Linked DNA regions of Homo sapiens: region 2 is linked to region 1. Evidence: fine-mapped expression QTL. A gene starts in region 1. The other region holds a variant in brackets. All regions are shown on one strand. Distances are between the middles of the regions. Region 1 holds the start of LURAP1 (leucine rich adaptor protein 1). Region 2 overlaps RAD54L (RAD54 like).

Region 1 (10,169 bases):
CAGTTTTAGGCAGGGGAGCAATATAATCCAATTTCTGTTTTAAGAGAACCTTTACTTTTTTTGTGGAGAATGGGTTGGAAGCAGACAGAGGAAGCCAGAAGACCAGTTAGATTTTTTTGAGCTTTCTGTATTCCATCTGCTTCCTGAATGGTGGGGTAATATCCCCCAAAATGAAATGTTAACAGTACTTGTCTTAGGAGTTAAAGAAATACATGATTTTTCCTAGTAAGTATGTATAAGAATGGAAGAAAACCCAACACATTTTATTACATTTGAAAAGATGTCCCGGCTGGGCACCATGACTCACGTAATCCCAGCAGGTTGGGAGGCCGAGGTGGGGTGGTCAGTTGAGGTCAGGAGTTTGAGACCAGCCTGCCCAACGCGGTGAAACCCCGTCTCTACTAAAAATACAAAAGTTAGCTGGGCGTGGTGACAGGCGCCTATAATCGTAGCTACTCAGGAGGCTGAAGCAGGAGAATCGCTTGAACCTGGGAGACAGAAGTTGCAGTTGAGATTGCACCACTGCACTCCAGCCTGAGTGACAGAGCAAGACTCCGTCTCAAAAAATAAAAAAATAAAAATAAATAATTAAAAGATGTCCCTCAGGGTTCCTTCCTGACCCTCTTTTCTCCTCAAACTGACTCTTCATGGATGATCTCATTCTCTCATGACCTCTGTTACCAATCTAGATGCCCAAACTGACATTGGCAGTTCTAACCTCTTTCCTGAGCTCCAGGCTGCCTGATGTCCAGCAGGACATCTTCACAGGCCCCTCTAACGCAACAGCACAACTTCTGGAATCATTTCCTTTCACTCCTAGATTTCCTGTGGGTTCCCCTCCTCAGTGAACTGCACCAGGCCAAACAGCTGGGAGTCACCCTTGACTCCTTGTCTGTCTCCAGTGACCAGTCCAGGTATGTCTTGCTCACCATTGTATTCTCTACACCACACACAAAGGCTGGCACATAGTAAGCTCTCCGTAACATTTGTTGAAATCATTCATTTGTATTTTTTAACAAATTTTTATTGAATGCCACTATAAATGAATGTAACCAGTCACCTAGTCCTGTCAGTCTTACCTCCTAAAGAGCCTTCCATTCTAGTCTAATTCTTCTTTGACCTCACAATCAGCCCCAGTGCAGGCCATTTCAGTTTCTTGCTTTCCAGCCAGTCTCCTTGACTCTAGATTTTTACTCCTCCTATCCTTTTCTCCTTGCAAAATCCAGAGTGATTTTCTTTAAGGCAAATGTTGCCGGGTTCGGTGGCTCATGCCTGTAATCCCGGCACTTTGGGAGGCCAAGGCGGGTGGATCACCTGAGGCGGATGGATCCGCCTGGCCAACATGGTGAAACCCCGTCTCTACTAAAAATACAAGAATTAGCTGGGTGTTGTGGCAGGTGCCTGTAATTCCAGTTACTCAGGAGGCTGAGGCAGGAGAATGGCTTGAACCTGGGAGGCAGAAGTTGCAATGAGCCAAGATGGTGCCACTGCACTCCAGCCTGGGCAACAGAGCCGGACTCTGTCTCAAAAAAAAAAGACAAATGTTTTGTCTATCTCTAACTTAAAACCCTTCCATGGATCAAAAAGTACCAAGGAAAATGATGTTACTTAAAATTATAAAGGTAGGCCAGGCATGGTGGCTCATGCCTGTAATCCCAGCACTTTGGGAGGCTAAGGTGGGAGGATTGCTTGAGGCCAGGAGTTCGAGACCAGCCTGGGCAACATAGCGAGACTCTATCTAAATTTTAAAAAAAGTTAATTACAAAGGTAACCTTAGATGAACTAAAAAGAGTGATAGAAATATGTAGTGCCAGGCCGGGCGCAGTGGCTCACACCTGTAATCCCAGCACTTTGGGAGGCTGAGGCAGGCAGATCACGAGGTCAAGAGTTCGAGACCAGCCTGACCAACATGGTGAAACCCCCGTCTCTACTAAAAATACAAAAATTAGTCGGGCATGGTGGCACGTGCCTGTAATCCCAGCTACTCAGGAGGCTGAGGCAGGAGAATCGCTTGAACCCAGGAGGGCAGGTTGCAGTGAGTCAAGATCGTGCCACTGCACTCCAGCCTGGGCGACAGAGTGAGACTCCATCTCAAAAAAAAAAAAAAAAAGAAAAAAGAAAGAAAAGAAAAGAAATATATATTGCCAATGGGGGAAAGGAACTACAGAGTGTGAGTTAAACCCATATATCCATATTTATCTGAATAGGACAATAAACAGCAGATGAATGTTTAAAATTGAGAAGTAGTGTGGCTGGGCATGGTGGCATACTCCTGTAGTCACAGCTGCTTGGGAGGCAGGAGGATTGCTTGAGCCCAGGAGTTTGAGTCCAGCCTGGGCAATGTAGGAAGACCCTGTCTCTAAAAAAGAAAAAATAGTGGTAGGATTTACAATAAGAGGATAGTTACTCCTACCCTACCCTTTCACACCTCTAGGCCCACTCCCAATTGGCAACCACTTTTAGTTAACTCTAAACAATAACGTTATGGGTATGAACACCAAAAGAAAAAAAAAAACTAAAAGTTATTTTTTGCCAATTGGGAGTGGGCCTAGAGGTGTGAAAGGGTAGGGTAGGGGTAACTATCTTCTCATTGTAAATCCTTCTGCAACCATGGGCTGGAATTACTTGAATTAAAAGCCTAAACAAACCAGAGTTTTCATGGCTGTTCATTACCTGTTAAATAAAACCCAAACATCTCAGAACCATTTTCTGTAACCTTGTTACTCAAAGTGTGGTCCCTTATTACTTGAAGTGTGGACCAGCAGCATGGCCATCACCTGGGAGCTTATTAGAAATGCAGGATCTTGGCTGGGCGCAGTGGCTCACACCTGTAATCCCAGCACTTTGGGAGGCCAAGGCAGGCGGATCACTTGAAGTCAGGAGTTCAAGACCAGCCTGGCCAACATGGTGAAACCCTGTCTCTACTAAAAATACAAAAATATTAGCTGGGCATGGTGGCGCATGCCTGTAATCCCAGCTACTCAGGAGGCAGAGGCAGGAGAATTGCTTGAACCCAGGGAGGCAGAGGTTTGTAGTGAGCCAAGATCGCGCCACCACGCTACATCCTGGGCGACAGAGCGAGACTCTGTCTCAAAAAAAAAAAAAAAAAAAAAAAAAAAATGCAGGATCTCAAGCCCCACCCCAGATTTACAAAATCAGAACCTACATTTTAACAAGATCCGCAGATAATTCATACGCACAGTCAAGCTTAAGGAGCATCTTGCTTGTAAGCCCAACGTGGACCTCTTCAGCTTCAGTACTGGTTGCCCTTTTCTACTCCGTTAGCCTGAATTCTAGCCCCTGGGGGGGGGGGGTGGTGTGTGTGTGTGTGTGTGTGTGTGTGTGTGTGTGTGTCTAGCTAAAATCCAGTCATCGTTTTATACCCAATTCCTCTGCTCCAGGAAGACTTCCAAGCCCTCTGCAGCTCTCTGTTACCGCTGTTCCTTAAACTCCCACATCTCTGACTGAAGCTGCTTAGACTTCATTCTGCAAACATGTATTGGGCGCCTGCTGTGTGCCTGGCTGGATTCAGTGCCAGGGTGGGGCGAAGGCGCTGAGGTCTCCGAGTGCTCTTTCAGGTCCAACTCCAGAATCGCCCAGCCCCACGCAATCCAGGGCCAGAGGTTGTGTGCGCAGCACTCGAATACATCCACAGACGGTGCTGCGCGGCTTTTCTGAGTGTTACGGCGCCCTCCTCCCGCCCCCGCGCCGCGCGGGCGGGGACCCACCGGTTTTGCTCCGCTTTAGCAGCGGCGAAGGGAGGACCCCCGGGAGCCGGTCCCCGGCGTCCGGTCGCCCAGCCCTTTTCAGGCTTGGGCCCGCATGGAGGGGACCGTGGAGTCCCAGACGCCTGACCTGCGGGATGTGGAGGGTAAGGTGGGCAGGAAGACCCCTGAAGGGCTGCTCCGCGGGCTGCGAGGCGAGTGTGAGCTGGGAACCTCTGGCGCCCTGCTGCTCCCAGGGGCGTCTAGCACCGGCCACGACTTGGGGGACAAGATCATGGCGCTGAAGATGGAGCTGGTGAGTGCTGAATCCATGGGCCAAGGGGACGAGTCCCTAGTGTAGGGCCGGGAGGGACGAACTCATGCTCCCAGAGTTAAGCTGGAGAGGAGGTAGTTAAAACTCTCCACCTAACTGCTCAGAATCCCTCCCAGATCAATCCGTAAACGCTGGGGTGGAGATGGAGTGACGTCCATTACTTGTCCCCCAAGAGTGAGTGGGGTGTTGATGGTCCTGAGGACTTGGGTTGGGAGCAGTGGGTTTTGGAAGTTATTCCTGCCAAATAATTGGGAGGAGAGAGATGAGGACTGGGAAGTACTGAGAACCCAACGCAGCACAAATTCCCCCCGCCTGTATGGGCCACCTATTCCCCGCCAGTCCCCGTTGTAAGGCAACCGGTTTTTTCTCCTTCTGCTAACCGGGAAAGGGTTTAAGTTCCTGTGAGGCCGCAGTGTTCCGCACAGAAAAGAAGTGGGTAAAGGGGCCTATCTGCTGAAAACTACCTGGACCAGGGGCACTGAAAACCTTCTCCGTTTCCTCTACATCCCCCAGCCCTACTTAAAATAATGGAAAGTTCCTAGACCCATAGCAGGGACAGAGAGTAGCAGCACCACTGGTGCTGATTCCCTCGCCTCAGACTCAGTCTCCTCCCAGCCAGTCTTCCAGGTAAACTGGATATTTGGATCTCATCTGTACATTCTTGGGGAGAAGAGGAAACAGCAACCCTCCCCTTTCTCTATTGCTGCTGGTCTAGATTCAGAGCCAAAAGGGCAGCCGAGGCCCTGGCAGGTTCCCCAGGGCCCTGATTCCGGTGAAGTGGGTGATTTACACCTGCCACTACTTTGCAGCCAGTTCTGGGGAACTGAGGAATTGCCATCGGCTTCCTGGCTCACAACCAGGAGCCCACAGTGAGTACGTCAGCTAAAGTCTTCCTGTGTGCCCAGCCTGTGCCAAGCTGGTCTGTGAAGGAGAAGGGGAAGGAAATCATGGGGGCTCTGAGACCAGCCAGGGCTCCGACGCCTGAGCTGAGAGGCTGGGAAGAGAGTCTGGTGGGTGGAGCAGTCAGGAAAGGCCCCCTGGGAGAAGGACTTGAATGCCAAGTGTGCACTTGGCCTTGAAGGTTGGAGGTGAGTGCCCAATTCTCCAGAGCAAGGCTGTGACTGTACCCACCTAAGCGGGGGCTTGCCTTTGCCTCACTGTACAAACTTTAGCTCAAGGCCTAGTAAGAGCCTATCTAGACTGTCTACTTGCTTTGAAAACTTTCACCCAGTGCATGTGCCAGGCAGCTTGCTGAGCACTTTACATGATGCTCTCTTCATCTCCACAGTAACCCTGTTAAGTGATATTTTATAGATGGAGAAACTGAGGCACAGGGTGGGCATGGTGGCTCACGCCTGTAATCCCAGCACTTTGGGAGGCCGAGGCAGGCAGATCGCTTGAGCCCAGGAGTTTGAGACCAGCCTGGGCAACAAAGCAAGACCCTGTCTCTACAAAAAATACAAAAATTAGATGGGTGTTGTGGTGTGTGCCTGTAGTCCTAGCTACTCTGGAGGCAGAGGCAGGAGGATCACTTGAGCCCAGGAAGAGGAGGTTGCAGTGAGCTGAAATCGCACCACTGCACTCCAGCCTGGGTGACAGAGCTCAGAGCTAGACCCTGTCTCAAAAAAAGAAGGGGAAGAAGGGGAGGAAGGGAGGAAGGGAGGGAGGGAGGAGAAAAGAAAAGAAAACAGAGGCACAGGGAGTTTAATAACTGCCCAACATCACGCAAAAAGCAGGGCCATGATTTGAACCCAGATCATCTGACTGCACTTTGCATCTTTACTTTGAGACCTGCTTTGTGCCAGATAGTCTGAACATTTTATGTCATTGAAATGAGAAAACTGGTCATCATTTCTCCCATCTTACAGATAAAACGTGCTTGCAGATTCTGAACTCACATAGGGAGTCAGTGGAAGAGCCACGCCCAGTCTCTGGCTCTCTTCTCTGCCTTGGTGGAAACTATCTGTAAACTTTAAGGGGCTGCATTTAACTTTTGATTTTGTCTCTCTGTATTCTTGACCCAGCTTGCCTGGGGCCTGAGGCTGCCCGAGAAAGGGCACAAGGGAGGGAGCCTTCTGGGGCCAGAATGAGGAGAGATCCCCATCCTATTTTTTCTCCTTCCTCAGGCCAGGATGTTATTAATATTAATCTCTTCTTGTGCTCTGCCCTGCCTACTGGGTTGCACCCAGGAAGGACAAGGGGTGGGGCAAGGGATTTGCCTTCGGGCTACTGAAGGCAGGACTGGTTCAAGCCCTCTAAGGACTGTCCTTCAATTGTTCCTCTCCCAGCTCTCCTTGCACAAAGGGGGAAGGCCTACCCTTGAGGCCAAGGTCAGTCCTGCCTCTAGGCCTCGTCCCTCCTGCTTTCTTCCTCTACCCTCCATTCAAAGGTTGAGTGAACAAGCCAGACTGGGATATGTGGGAATGGGAAACAGTGGCAACTTCTTCTTAGTTCTCCCACCCAAAGAACTGTTGCTATGACAACCCACCTCCACAGAGGCAGTTTGAGAAAAAGCTTTAGGCAAGGAAGAATGCACGGGTTCAAGTCTTGGCTCTGCTTCTGAAACGTTTTGTGGTCTTGAGCAGCACTCTGTCTCTCTCCTGGCCTCAGTTTTTCCTCCTTTTGGTGGAGGGGGTAGAGGGAGATGGGGACTGTGAAACCAGATGATTGTTAAGAACCTTTATAGTAACAATATTCTGATAGTCCCCGCTCTGGGAGCTCGGACTGGGATTTCCAGGCTTTTACCCTAGGGCCTGATTTATATTGAGCAATGAGGAAACCATACAGGACCCCAGCGCTGGGCAGAGAGTCTGGTATGTAGATGTTAAGGAGAGGAGTAGGGAGCCTGAATCTCCTTGGAAGGAGAATTGGGTTTGGAGTCGCCTCTGAGGCTGCATCTCTCCTGAGCTGTTTATCCTATACTCTATTTTCTTCAAGAGATGGTGTGAAAAGAGTGTTTCTTTTTCTGGCAAGAAAACCTTGCTTTCTTCTATTCTGGGAGTGATGCTGTCACAGTCAGGGAATCCCACTGCCACAGGATTATAGAATCTGCTCTCAGATTTATTTCCCAGCAACACACTACAACCCAGACCCCTGAATCCTGGGAACCATCAAAGGGGTCAAGGATAGTAAAGGCAAGAGAATCACAGAACTGAATGTGACCTCCTTAGCACTGGGCCAAGCACCAGAAATGGATTGGGCAGGATCTGCTCTCAGGGAGCTCACAGTCTGGTTAGGGAAGGAGGAGACAGAAGAACATTTCTAGTACAGGATGATAAGTGCTGGTAGAACCCAGGAAGGGCCTCCTGGAAGAGTCTTCACTGTAGAGTGATGTGGTTGGGTTTGTGCTCTAGAAAGTCGATTTCAAATTGGAAGGAGGCACAGGCTGTTTCCTCTGCTTGAAATGCTTCTCTCCACCTCTTTGTCTGGCTGAGTCCTTCTATTTTTTTTTTTTTGACACAGGGTTTCACTCCCATCACCCAGGCTGGAGTGCAATGGTACAATGTCGGTTCACTGCAACCTCTGCCTTCCAAGCTCAAGCGGTTCTCCTGCCTCAGCTTCCTGAGTAGCTGGGACTATGGGCATGTGCCACCACACCTAGCTAGCTTTTGTATTTTTAGTAGAGACGGGATTTTGCCATGTTGGCCAGGCTGGTTTCGAAGTCCTGACCTCAAGTGATCTTCTGCCTCAGCCTCCCAAAGTGCTGGGATTACAGGTGTGAGCCACTGCGCCCATCCTAGCTGAGTCCTTCTTAACCTTAAATTTTCAGCTCATGTCCCTTATCCTAGGAAGCATTTCCTGACCTGGTTAGGTTATGGCCCTCTAGGTATCTACAGTCCTCTGTATAGCAGTTGTTTCCACTAGCGTTTGCCACACTGAACTTTTCTTTCTTTCTTTCTTTCTTTTTTTTTTTTGAGATGGAGTCTCGCTCTGTCGCCCAGGCTGGAGTGCAGTGGTGCGATCTCGGCTCACTGCAAGCTCCGCCTCCTGGGTTCAGCCCATTCTCCTGCCTCAGCCTCCCGAGTAGCTGGGACTACAGGCACCTGCAAACACACCCAGCTAATTTTTTGTATTTTTAGTAGAGACGGGGTTTCACCATGTTAGCCAGGATGGTCTCGATCTCCTGACCTCGTGATCTGCCTGCCTCGGCCTCCCAAAGTGCTGGGATTACAGGCATGAGCCACTGCACCTGGCCTGAACTTTTCATTTTTAAATTATTTATTTATTATCATTATTTTTTTTGACACGGAGTTTCGTTCTTGGCGTCCAGGCTGGAGTGCAATGGCGTGATCTCGGCTCACTGCAACCTCTGCCTCCCGGGTTCAAGCGATTCTCCTGCCTCAGCTTCCTGAGTAGCTGGGATTACAGGCACCCGCCTAGTTAATTTTTGTATTTTTAGTAGAGATGGGGTTTCACCACGTTGGCCAGGCTGGTCTTGAACTCCTGGCCTCAAGTGATCTGCCTGCTTTGGCCTCCCAAAGTGCTGGGATTACAGGTGTGAGCCACCCCACCAGCCTTATTTATTTTTTTAATAGAGACAGGGTCTTGCTATGTTGCCCAGGCCAGTCTCAAACTCCTGGCCTCAAGCAGTCCGTTTGTGTCAGCCTCCCGAAGTTCTGGGATTGCAGGCTGAGCCACAATGCCAAGCCAACCACACTGAATTTTAAGTGCTTGCTTCATTGTCTTATCTTACCCACTAGATTATGAACCTTCTGAAGGTAAGAAATGATGCCTTTTCTTTCTTCATCGAACATAGTGCCACACCAATAAGAAACAATAAATATTGGTTCCATAACTGAATGGATTAATTCCATCTCGAGGAAGGGCAAGGAAGACTTCCTCGAGGAGGTGACATTTGAGCTGGGGCTTGAAGAATGAATAAAGTCAGTGGGAATTCCAGTTCAAGATACCAGATTGAGGGCCGGCACGGTGGCTCATGCCTGTAATCCCAGCATTTTGGGAGGCCGAGGCGGGCGGATCACCTGAGGTCAGGAGTTCGAGACCAGCCTGACCAACATGGTGAAACCCCATCTCTACTAAAAATACAAAAATTAGCTGGACGTGGTGGTGCACCTGTAATCCCAGCTACTAGGGAAGCTGAGGCAGGAAAATCGCTTGAACCCTGGAGGCGGAGGTTGCAATGAGCCAAGATCGTGCCACTGCACTCCAGCCTGGACGACTGTGCAAAACTCTGTCTCAAAAAGAGAAAAATAAATAAATAAAATAAATAAAAGGCATGAAGCCGTTATGACAATGAGAATAAGAGACAAGGTAATAGGAACAAAATTTTGGAAACTGAAATTCAGAAGGAAGAGTGGTAACTAACTCAGACCTAAAAAATGCTCAGTCCCGAGCCAGCAGTGGGGAAAGCTGAAAAGCAACACTTTTTTATTTTGTGGGGGATAGAGTTTTGCTCTTGTTGCCCAGGCTGGAGTGCAATGGCGCAATCTTGGCTCACCGCAACCTCCGCCTCCTGGATTCAAGCAATTCTCCTGCCTCAGCTTCCCAAGTAGCTGGGATTACAGGCATGTGACACCATGCCCAGCTAATTTTGTATTTTTCGTAGAGATGGGGTTGCTCCATGTTGGTCAGGCTGGTCTCGAACTCCCGAACTCAGGTGATCCATCCGCCTTGGCCTCCCAAAGTGCTGGGATTACAGAGCCACCGCCCCCTGCCAAAGCAACACATTTTATACTGCAAAAACCCTTAAAGGTCTTAGGGGTTGGAAGCACCAGGTATTTCTGGAACTGGGGGCACAAGTGGGGCTGAAAACAAAAGGGCTGGTTGAATGTTTAAAAGTCATATTCTAAGATCCCCTCCCTAACTGTGCAACCAGGTGCCACCTAATTCTTTATCTAGCAGAAGACTGGAGATGTAAGTTCTGTTGTTGTTTTCTTTTTTTTTTTCTTTTTTTTTTTTTGAGATGGAGTCTCGCTCTGTTGCCCAGGCTAGAGTGCAGTGGCCCAATCTCAGCTCACTGCAGCCTCAGCCTCCCGAGTAGCTGGGATTACATGCACCCGCCACCACACAGCTAATTTTTGTATTTTTAGTAGAGACGGGGTTTTGCCATGTTGGCCAGGCTGGTCTTGAACTCCTGACCTCGGGTAATCCACTTGCCTCAGCCTCCCAAA
Region 2 (10,375 bases), 52 kb after region 1:
ATTGTCAAACCCATAATCCCTTTTCCCATCCCCAGAGGTAATCACTATCTTGAATTTTATCCATCATCTTTTGCTTTTATGATAGTTTTAGCATACATATAAAAATCACTAATACAGCCTTGGCAACAGAGTGAGACCACCTCAAAAAAAAAATCACTAATACATTGTTTAATTGGTTCTTTGAACTTTAAAAAATGGTGTTGGGTGGGCATGTTGGTTCATGCCTGTAATCCCAGCATTCTGGGAGGCCAAGGTAGGCGGATAGCTTGAGCTCAGGAGTTTGAGACCAACCCAGGCAACATGGTGAAACCCCATCTCTACCAAAAATACAAAAAAAATTAGCTGGGCATGGTGGCGTGTGCCTGTTGTCCCAGCTACTTGGGAGGCTGACATGGGAGGATCACTTGAGCTTAGGAGGTGGAGGTTGCAGTGAGCTGAGATTGGCACCATTGCACTCCAGCCTGGGTGACAGAGCGAGACCCCGTCTCAAAAGAAAGAAAATGGTGTTAAAATGGTGTGTAATCCTCTGGGACTGTTTCATTCAGGATTTGTTCAAAGTTGTCCTGTGTAACTACATGGCATAAGTGCAGTTGTGGGAGTGCACAACAGGAGACCTATGGGTCTGGAGATTGGGGAAGACCTGCCTCTGAGAGATGTGCTGTTAAGTCCTGAAAGATATGAGGGGTTAGACAGGTGAAGGGAGTGGAAAACATTCTAATAGAAGGAACAGCTTATTGGAAAGACTGGCAGCAATAGAGGCAGGTACTGAAAAGAGAGTGTGGGGAGTTGGGGGATGGTGGTGAGAGATGAGAGTTGGAGAGCTGTGCAGTGGCTAAGAGTGGAAGGCCTTTCAGAAGCCATGCTAGGAGAGTCTGGACTAAGGTCACTGAAGAGCTTTAGAAGTGTTTTAAGTGGGGGTAGGAGGTAACAGCAGTATAGAATATTTGTTGGATGGGGAGAGACTGGAGGTAGGGAAACTAGTGAGAAAGCTATTGCAGGTGGCCAAGCAAGAGAGGATTATGGCCTGGACATGGGTTTTAGGGGAATGGGGAATGGGAAGAAGTGGGTGGATTTTGAGAGATACTTAAAAATTACAAGTGGAAAAACTTGGGATTGATTACATGTGGGGAGAGGGAAAATTGAGGATGAAGTTGGGATTTTAGGCTTTGGCAAGGTAGATGGATGGTGGTGTCATTTGCTGAGATAGGGAACACAGAAGAAGAATGGCATTTGGTGGGAGGGAGATGGCAGGCACTGTAATCAGGAGGCCCATGAAGTTCAATGTATTATACAAGAGCTATTCTCTTTTAATAGCAAAGTTACAGGAATAGAACAGAAGATAGACAACATTAAAAATGTACTTGCAGGCCAGGTGTGGTGGCTCACACCTGTAATCCCAGCACTTTGGGAGGCTGAGGCAGGAGGATCACTTGAGCCCAGGAGTTTGAGACCAACTTGAACAACATAGTGAGACCCTATTTCTAAAAAACAATAAATAAATTGGCTGGATGTGGTTGCACGTGACTGTAGTCCCAGCTACTCTGGAGGCTGAGGTGGGAGGATCGTTTGAGCTGAGGAGGTCAAGGGTGCAGTGACCCGTGATACTGTCAGTGCACTCCACCCTGGGTGACAGAGACCCTGTCTCAAAAGGAAAAAAAATACTTGCGTATAGGAAAATTCAGAAAAGTATAGTTAATGGGTAGAATCTGCTGTATGATAAGAATGCTACTAACACTGTTTAGTTGCTGTCAATAAGAAATTGTATTTTAAAAAATCCATTGTCCAGAAGATATGAACAGGTTTGTTTATGGTTGTTATAAAATTGAAGTGCTGAAACTTGTTCACTGAAACATTTTGACTTGTATTAATGCTTTACATCCCTACATTTATATTAAGAATTCACACAAAAGGCCGGGCACGTTGGCTCACGCCTATAATCCCAACACTTTGGGAGGCCTAGGCGGGCGGATCACAAGGTCAGGAGATCGGAGATTGAGACCATCCTGGCTAACATGGTGAAACTCCATCTCTAGTAAAAAGTACAAAAAATTAGCTGGGTGTGGTGGCGGGCGCCTGTAGTCCTAGCTACTCGAGAGGCTGAGGAATGGCATGAACCCGGGAGGTGGAGCTTGCAGTGAGCCAAGATTGTGCCACTGCGCTCCAGCCTGGTGACAGAGCGAGACTCTGTCTAAAAAAAAAAAAGAATTCACACAAAAAATGAAAATGGAAAAACTGCAAACTGCAATACCGGATTTCTGTCCCCTATTTTTCTACTCACAGTGATATACTTAGGTACTCTTTTTTTTTTTTTTTTTTTTTGAGACAGAGTCTTGTGTTCTCACCCAGGCTGGAGTGCTGCAGTGGTGCTGTCTTGGCTCACCTGCTTACTTATCTCCATTCTCCTTCAGCTGGAGCTTGGTGAGCTAACACTGCACTTAGAGAGCGATGGTGATCTTTAATTCCTTTTGAAATCAGAAGAAAAAAAATACATAGTAATCCAGCCTGATTATATTATTATAGTTATCTTTATACCAATGCAGTCTTTTTTGTTTTTGTTTTTTCTTTTTTTTGATAGGGAGTCTTGCTCTGTCGCTCAGAATGGAGTGCGGTGGCGTGATCTTGGCGCACTGCAACCTCTGCCTCCCAGGTTCAGGCGATTCTCCTGCCTCAGCTTCCTGAGTAGCTGGGATTACAGGCACCCGCCACCATACCTGGCACATTTTTGTGTTTTTAGTAGAGACATGGTTTTACCATGTAGGCCAGGCTGGTCTTGAACTCTTGACCTTGAGTGATCTGCCTGCCTCAGCCTCCCAAAATGCTGGTATTACAGGTGTGAGCTGCTGCATCTGGCCTCTTTTTTTTTCTTTTTTTTTTCTTTTTTTAATGGAGGAAGGGGTCCCAAAGGCAAAAGTGCCTGGGGCCCACAAGAGTCATAGTGTGGCCTTGGAGATGAGGACTTCAGCCTTAGACATGATGATTTTGAAGTCCCTGCAGGAGATCTAGGTCTGGAGTCAGTTGTAAATGTGGATGTGGAGTAAGGTATAACTAGAAATACACCTGGGACTCATTAGCATAGATAAATTTTATACCTGGTAAGTGGATTGGTGAATGGGTAGTCAGAAGATCTGAGGGCTAAACCCTGAGCCCTGGGGAGCACTGACTTTTTTTTTTTTTTTTTTTTCCTGAGACAGGGTCTTGCTGTGTCACCCAGGCTGGAATGCACTGGTGCGATCACGGCTCACTGCAGCCTCAATCTTAGGCTCGGGTATTGCTGCCACCTCAGCCTCTGGAGTAGCTAGGACCACAGGCGTGTGCCACCAAACCTGGCTAATTTTTAAATGATATGTAGAGACCAGGTCTCACTGTGTTGCCCAGGCAGGTTTCAAACTCCTGGGTTCTAGCAATCCTCCTGTCTTGGCCTCCCAGAGTGCTGGGATTACAGACGTGAGTCACTGCAGCCGGTTGGGAGCATTGAGCTCTGGGGGTGGGTTGAGGGTTAAAAGGCAGAGGGAAAAGAGCTCATTAGGGGACTGAAGATGAGATCCCAGAAAGGTGGAGAGTAGTGTCATGGAAATCAAAGGCAGAAAATATTTGAGGAGTGGTCAGCTTCGTCAAGTAAGATACATGTCCATTGGAATTAGGGTCATGTAGGCCATTCGTGATCTTGGCCAGAGTGGAAGGGGCAGAAGACAGGAAGAGTGGGAGGAAAGAAGGGGAGCTATATAACTTACTAGAAGTTTGCCTGTGGAGAGGAGAGATAAGCAATCAAATGAATATTTGTTTTTAAGATAGGAGATAATTAAGTCCATTTTAAATGCTGGTAAGAGCTAGTAGAGAGGGAGAGGTTGAGATACAAGAGTGATCAGTCATAACAGAGTGATTCTCTGCAGAAATGGGAAGCTTTAGCCTTGGTGGGGAGGAGGGATGCTGTCTCTCATCTATCAGAAGGAAAGATTGGTATGAATTATCAGTAACTAAATGAACAGAGAATAAGAGCATGCTCCCTCCCCTGCCCCCTGCTATAGAGACTGGTGAGTCACCAAACCAGATCCCTGAAGGTTGGCCATTCCTTTTTTTTTTTTTTTTTTTTTTTTGAGACATAGTCTTGCTCTGTGACCCAGGCTGGAGTGCAGTGGCGCGATCTCGGCTCACTGCAGCCTCTGCCTCCCAGGTTCAAGTGATTCTTGTGCCTCAGCCTCCCAAGTAGCTGGAATTATAGGTGCCCGCCCCCACACCCAGCTCAGTTTTTTGTACTTTTAGCAGAGACGGGGTTTCACCATGTTGGCAAGGCAGATCTCGAACACCTGACCTCAGGTGACCTGCCCGCCTTGGCCTCCCAAAGTGCTGGGATTACAGGCGTGCACTGTGCCCAGCAGGCCATTCCATTTTGCAGGCTGAGCCCTCAGACATTTTTGGCCAGGGGTCTCCACATTCTTCCTTACCAGTTATGCAAGCCTGTAGTTCTCCCTGCAGAACCTATGGTTCCTGTGTTCTATTGAAAGTCTTTTTAAATTTAGGGCATAAATTCTTGGCTACTCAGAGCCTCAAATCTAGCCTTCTATACTGATAATTTTGAAAATATTTCTGTTTTAGAATTGATGCCAAATTAAAAAGAAAATTAGGGTCCATCTCCTTTTCCTCTCATTTGACTTAAGAGTAGCTTTTTTTTTTCCTTTGAGGCAGGTCTTGCTGTCACCCAGGCTGGAGTGCAGTGGTGTAGTTGTAGCTCACTGCAGCCTTGAACTCCTAGGCCAAGTGATCTTCCTGCCTCAGCCTTCTGAGTAGCTGGGACCATGTGCCACAGTGCCTGGGTAATTTTTAAATTTTGTGTACGGGGTGTGTGGGGGGGTCTCACTACGTTGCCTAGGGTGGTCTCAAAATCCTGGGCTTAAGCGGTCCTCCCACCTCAGCCTCCCAAAGCACTGGGGTTATAGGCATGAGCCACTGCACTGGCCAAGGGTCCTTTTTGTTAGCATTTTTCATAATGATTATCATTGCTATTCATAGTTACAGTCATGCTAATTAAAAATAGTAAAGGCTGGGCATAATGGCTCATGCCTATAATCCCAGCACTTTGGGAGGCCAAGGTGAGAAAGATCCCTTGAGCCAGGACTTAGAGAAAGATCCCTTGAGCCAGGACTTAGAGACTGCAGTGAGGTATGATCACCACTACTGTACTCCAGCCTGGGCGACAAAATGAGACCCTGTCTTTTAAAAAAAAAAAAAGTCAATAAAAGATTTTATTCAGATGCAAAGAAATTTGCAAATAAACAAAAGCATTTGAGTTTTTTGCC[A/G]ACTTTGCCTTTATGTTATGTTATTTAGTGTGATGTTGTCATGTTATTTAGTGTGATAAGGAAGTTCATTTCTACATACTTGTTTTCTGTCTTCTAATATCACAAAAAAAATTCATTACTTTTTTTAAATTTAAAGTACATTTGAGGCCAGGTGTGATGGCTCATGCCTATAATCCCAGCACTTTGGGAGGCCAAGGTGGACGGATCACTTGAGGGCAGGAGTTCAAGACCAGCCTGGCCAACATGGTGAAACCCTGTTTCTACTAAAAATATCAAAATTAGCTAGGTGTGGTGGCGTGTGCCTGTAGTCCCAGCTACTTGGGAGGCTGAGGCAGGAGAATTGCTTGAACCTGGGAGGTGGAGGTTGCAGTGAGCTGAGATTGTGCCATTGCACTCCAGCCTGGGCAACAGAGCAAGACTCCATCTCAAAAAAAAAAAAAAAAAAAACCCCAAAAAACAAATAAAGTACATTTGAATTTCTAGACATTGATGATGTGTGAAGAAATGAGTCAGAAAACAAAGGTAAAAATATCACGGCAGGCTTGCTTTTTTTCCTATTAGACTATGTTTTTTGCTAGAAGGGACATTTTTTCATTACTGCTTTTTCCACTAATATATTCCCATTAAAACTACCTTCAGGGTCTCTGCTCTTTATTTCTCTGCTCTCTTGGCTTCCACCTCTGGTTTTGTTGAGGTTCACAGGCTATCACAGTTCCGCAAAGGGCTCAGGTGTGTGTGGACCAGAACTTCCATGGGAGCTGTCAGAGTTAGCTCAGTGTTAATTTTTCTGCCTTCTCTGCCCCTGCCCCAGCCCCATAGCCCATGGAATAATGCTGGTTCAAGGCAGAAGTGCTTGTACAGAGGCTTCTTGCCTTTAGGTGGAGGAGTCACCAGTGCTACCTCTCTAGGACCCACATATGTCTACCTGCTGTCACCCTTGTCCCACTTGCTTTTTCTTAGTGTTGGGCTTAGCTTCTCTCTCATGTCCCTTTCTCATGTTCCTTCTCTTGTGCTTTACATGGCAGGAAGCTGCTGGGTCTGGGCTGATCTGCATGGCTGTACTCAGAGTGGGTGAGAGGCCACGTTGCCTACTGAGTACAAGTAAGGACCCTAGAACCAGGAAAGTCCTGCATTTGTAATGGCTTTGTGACTTGAGAAAGTGACTTAATCACTCTGAGCCTCAGTTTGCTCATTTGTAAAATGGAAACACCAGTAATATATGGACCTCATACAGCTGTTAGGATTAAATGGTAACATGAATGCAAGAGGCTTAGCTCTGTGTCTAGCATACATTGGTAGCCATCATTATTTTTATTTATATTTTTAAATATATATTTTTAAAATAGAGATGGGGTCTTGCTATATTGCCCAGGCTGGTCTCGAACTCCCAGACCTAAGTGATCCTCCTGCCTTGGCCTCCCAAAGTGTTAGGATTACAGGTGTGAGCCACCATGCCCGGCCTGGTGTTGTTAATATTATTTTATTAATACGATGGCTCCCATTTCTCCATCACTACTCTTTGATGAGCTGTTTAGTTCCCAAGGAGGCTGATGTGAGTATTAGATATATTAGACATAACTGATGTAGCCAAAAAAAAAAAAAAAAGAATTGTGAGGTGTGCTTGGGAAGGTGTAACCCTATATGACAGTGGTTAAACCCAGACATTAGAATTATCCATTATTACTCAGGTTGGCTAAGTCTGTGGTATTTGCTTTCCAAGGTGCTATACCCTAGGGAAGAGCTAGGTATGCTCACTGGCATGGTTTTTAATGAGTGAATGGTTTCCTGGGTTCTAAGCCTCGTGGTTGACTGAGGCTGGGCCCTTCTGCTATCCCTGGATATTTGTAGAACCTTACATAAAGCCTCGAAGATGGATGCTGTTGTACAAAACCTAATGTGAAGCATATCATGATATTGTCCCATAACATCTCCAGTCAGTCCTGAATCCTTGTTTCTCCTTTCTTTTTAGGAAGCATTTATTCGAAGCATTTTGTCAAAGCCTTTCAAAGTCCCCATTCCAAATTATCAAGGTAAAATGGAGGTTTTTCTGTTTTTGAAATCAGTCATATGTACGTGTGCCTGAATAAATTAAAAACCTGCTTTTGTAAATACAAGCTTAGCTGGGAATTGAAGGTGCCAGTCCAGCGGTGGCTGTGTTTGGGGTGACCCTCCTGAGGCCTGCATGAAAACTGTGTTAGCCTCAGTAAGGGCTGCCAAGACTAACTGCCCCTCATCTTCTTGGTAGAGGTGTCCCGGTGCTCAGAAAGCTCCTGGTGGGCCAAGATGGCTGATGGACCTGGGCTTCATTCAATCCAAGTGCATTCAGTAGCATCCCTTTTATGAGGCTGACTGTGTGGGAGGCCTGGATTCTATAAGGTTTTTCCCTGTCTTATGTAGGGTACAGCATTATGCTAAAACTGGGGCTTGGAGGAATAGGGAGGCCAGCTTTCTCTCTCTCTCTTTTTTTTTTTTTAATTTAATAGAGATAGGATTTCACTATGTTGGCCAGGCTGATCTCGAACTCCTGGGCTCAAGCGATCCTCCCACCTCGACCTCTCAAAAAGTGTTGGGACTACAGGCTTGAGATACTACGCTTGGCTGTGGCCAGCTCTCAGGAGCTCTCAGAAAGCTCCATGAAAGTGCCCTTTAGAATTTCAGGCCTTCCCAGGATTGTCTTGAGTTGAAATGAACCAGATCTGGCACCTCAGAAGTTTGTAATTGAATGGGAGAAATAAAACGGGAAAAGCTCTGATTCAAAGCAGAAAAATTCTGGGGGCTGGGCATCGTGGCTCACGCCTGTAATACCAGCACTTTGGGAGGCCAAGGCGGGCAGATCACCAGAGGTCAGGAGTTCAAGACCAGCCTGGACAACATGGTGAAACCCTGTCTCTACTAAAAAAAATACAAAAATTAGCTGGGTGTGGTGGTGGGAGCCTATAATCCCAGCTTCTTGGGAGGCTGAGGCAGGAGAATTGCTTGAACCTGGGAGGCAGAGGTTGCAGTGAGCCGAGATTGTGCCACTGCACTCCAGCCTGGGCAACAAAGTGAGACTCCATCTCAAAAAAAAAAAAAAGCTGAATGGGATAATGGTCATATAGAGATGCCCAAACTGAGTTTGGAGGCATTCTCAGAGAGAGAGGGTCATATGGGAGCTCGGGAAAGGTTATGTGAAGGACAAGTATTTGAGCTGGGCTTGCTGGAGCTCCTAAACATAGATTCAGGTGACGGAATGATTATTGGTTTGTAGGTCCTCTGGGCTCTCGAGCATTGGGCCTGAAAAGGGCTGGGGTCCGCCGGGCCCTCCATGACCCCCTGGAAAAAGATGCCTTGGTTCTGTATGAGCCTCCCCCGCTGAGCGCTCATGACCAGCTGAAGCTTGACAAGTATGTGCACTGGTATTTCATAAGCAGTTTTGGTTCTCTGTATATGCACGCATACTTGGGAGGGCAGAGGGTATTTTGGTGTGATTTCTTTTTAGGATTGACATATGTTTTCAGAGAGTAGATGATTGGGGAAGGAGACTGCCTGGGGAAGAGCCTGTGGTCATGTCCAGTGAGTGGGCATTCCTCATCCCCTCCTGCCTTCCCAGGATGCTCACTCAGGAGGAGGAGTGATTGAGGTGATGACACAGGGAACCCATCCCTCTCTGAGCTAACTTTCTAACTCCTAAAGTAGGAACTTGCTATGGTTTTACGATTTATCAGCCAAGAAGGTCTTCTTTTAGGCAGCTGCCTCTGTTGCCTCCGGATCAGCAGGACACAGCTTCCTGAGGGTGCTCCCTTGCCCATGTCTGAGCACGCTGTTTTCTTTGCTGTGTTTTCTCAGGGAGAAACTCCCTGTCCATGTGGTTGTTGACCCTATTCTCAGTAAGGTTTTGCGGCCTCATCAGAGAGAGGTAAATGAGGGTGAGGGGAACGAGGTATGGGCTATGGGCTGAGCCTGGGAGACTACCATCCCTGGGACAGCAGCAGCGTAGGTGCCAAAGTGGACTGAAGGCTGTTATTCTCTAGGGAGTGAAATTCCTGTGGGAGTGTGTCACCAGTCGGCGCATCCCTGGCAGCCATGGCTGCATCATGGCTGATGAGATGGGCCTAGGAAAGACGCTGCAGTGCATCACATTGATGTGGACACTTTTACGCCAGAGTCCAGAGTGCAAGCCAGAAATTGACAAGGCAGTGGTGGTGTCGCCTTCCAGCCTGGTGAAGAACTGGTACAATGAGGTTGGGAAATGGCTCGGAGGGAGGATCCAACCTCTGGCCATCGATGGAGGATCTAAGGATGAAATAGACCAAAAGCTGGGTACGGAGCCCTAACAAAGATGGCTGCACTCTCCTGCACAGCCTGCTGCTTTCTTACGTGTATGCTCATTTATGGCCAGGGTGGAGGGCAATGCAGGGGTAGAAGAAAAGAGAATTTCCATTGAAAATAGTTGAAGTGGAGTCAGTTGTTTCCAGGCTAAATTAAAGAACTGTCTAATTGTTTTTTTTGTTTTTTTTTTTTTCAAAAGATTCTGAATTGTTCCCTTTACACCTTTTCTGTTGTAGAAGGATTCATGAACCAGCGTGGAGCCAGGGTGTCTTCTCCCATCCTCATCATTTCCTATGAGACCTTCCGCCTTCATGTTGGAGTCCTCCAGAAAGGAAGTGTTGGTCTGGTCATATGTGACGAGGTACTTGACTCTCAGCAGTCTGGGTGGTAGGAGAAAATCTGTCAAAATCTCTTCACTGAGTATTGCCTTCCAAGGGCTGTGCTAGTCACTGGGGAATGCTGAAGACAGGATGCTGCCTTGGAGACAAGTGACAGGGAGAGCCTGTGATACCAAAATACAAGATACTGTCTGCCAAAAGAGGGCTGAAACAATGCTTAGAACCCTGAGGAGAGTGAGATACTGGGGGCTGATTGGCTTTGTTGCCTCCGGATAGTATTCCTAGACTAAAGAAGGACCTTGAAGGGTGGGTGGCAATGTTTAGAGGATATAAATCAGAAAGTGTCTGAGACAAGTCTCAATTTAGAGATTTATTTTGCCAAGGTTGAGGATGCTCTGGGGAAAAAGAGACACAAGCCAAAGTAGGATCTGTAGC

The links.
Region 2: its variant is fine-mapped to the expression of LURAP1 in nasal epithelium (TOPMed, PIP 0.94).

Annotation. Positions count from the first base shown.
Region 1 is chr1:46,199,605-46,209,773 of GRCh38, forward strand. It overlaps LURAP1 (leucine rich adaptor protein 1), which reads left to right and starts at 3,730. Exons shown (of 2, transcript NM_001013615.3): 1 at 3,730-4,020. The coding sequence starts at 3,823. It also overlaps a transcript of POMGNT1 not described here. RefSeq lists a silencer at 3,651-3,770.
Region 2 is chr1:46,251,423-46,261,797 of GRCh38, forward strand. RAD54L (RAD54 like) reads left to right here. Exons shown (of 18, transcript NM_003579.4): 4 at 7,264-7,324; 5 at 8,542-8,677; 6 at 9,120-9,189; 7 at 9,305-9,593; 8 at 9,839-9,963. Among named protein-coding and RNA genes, the nearest start is that of RAD54L, 8.8 kb to the left of the region's middle. The variant A/G (reference allele first, on the strand shown) is at 5,295.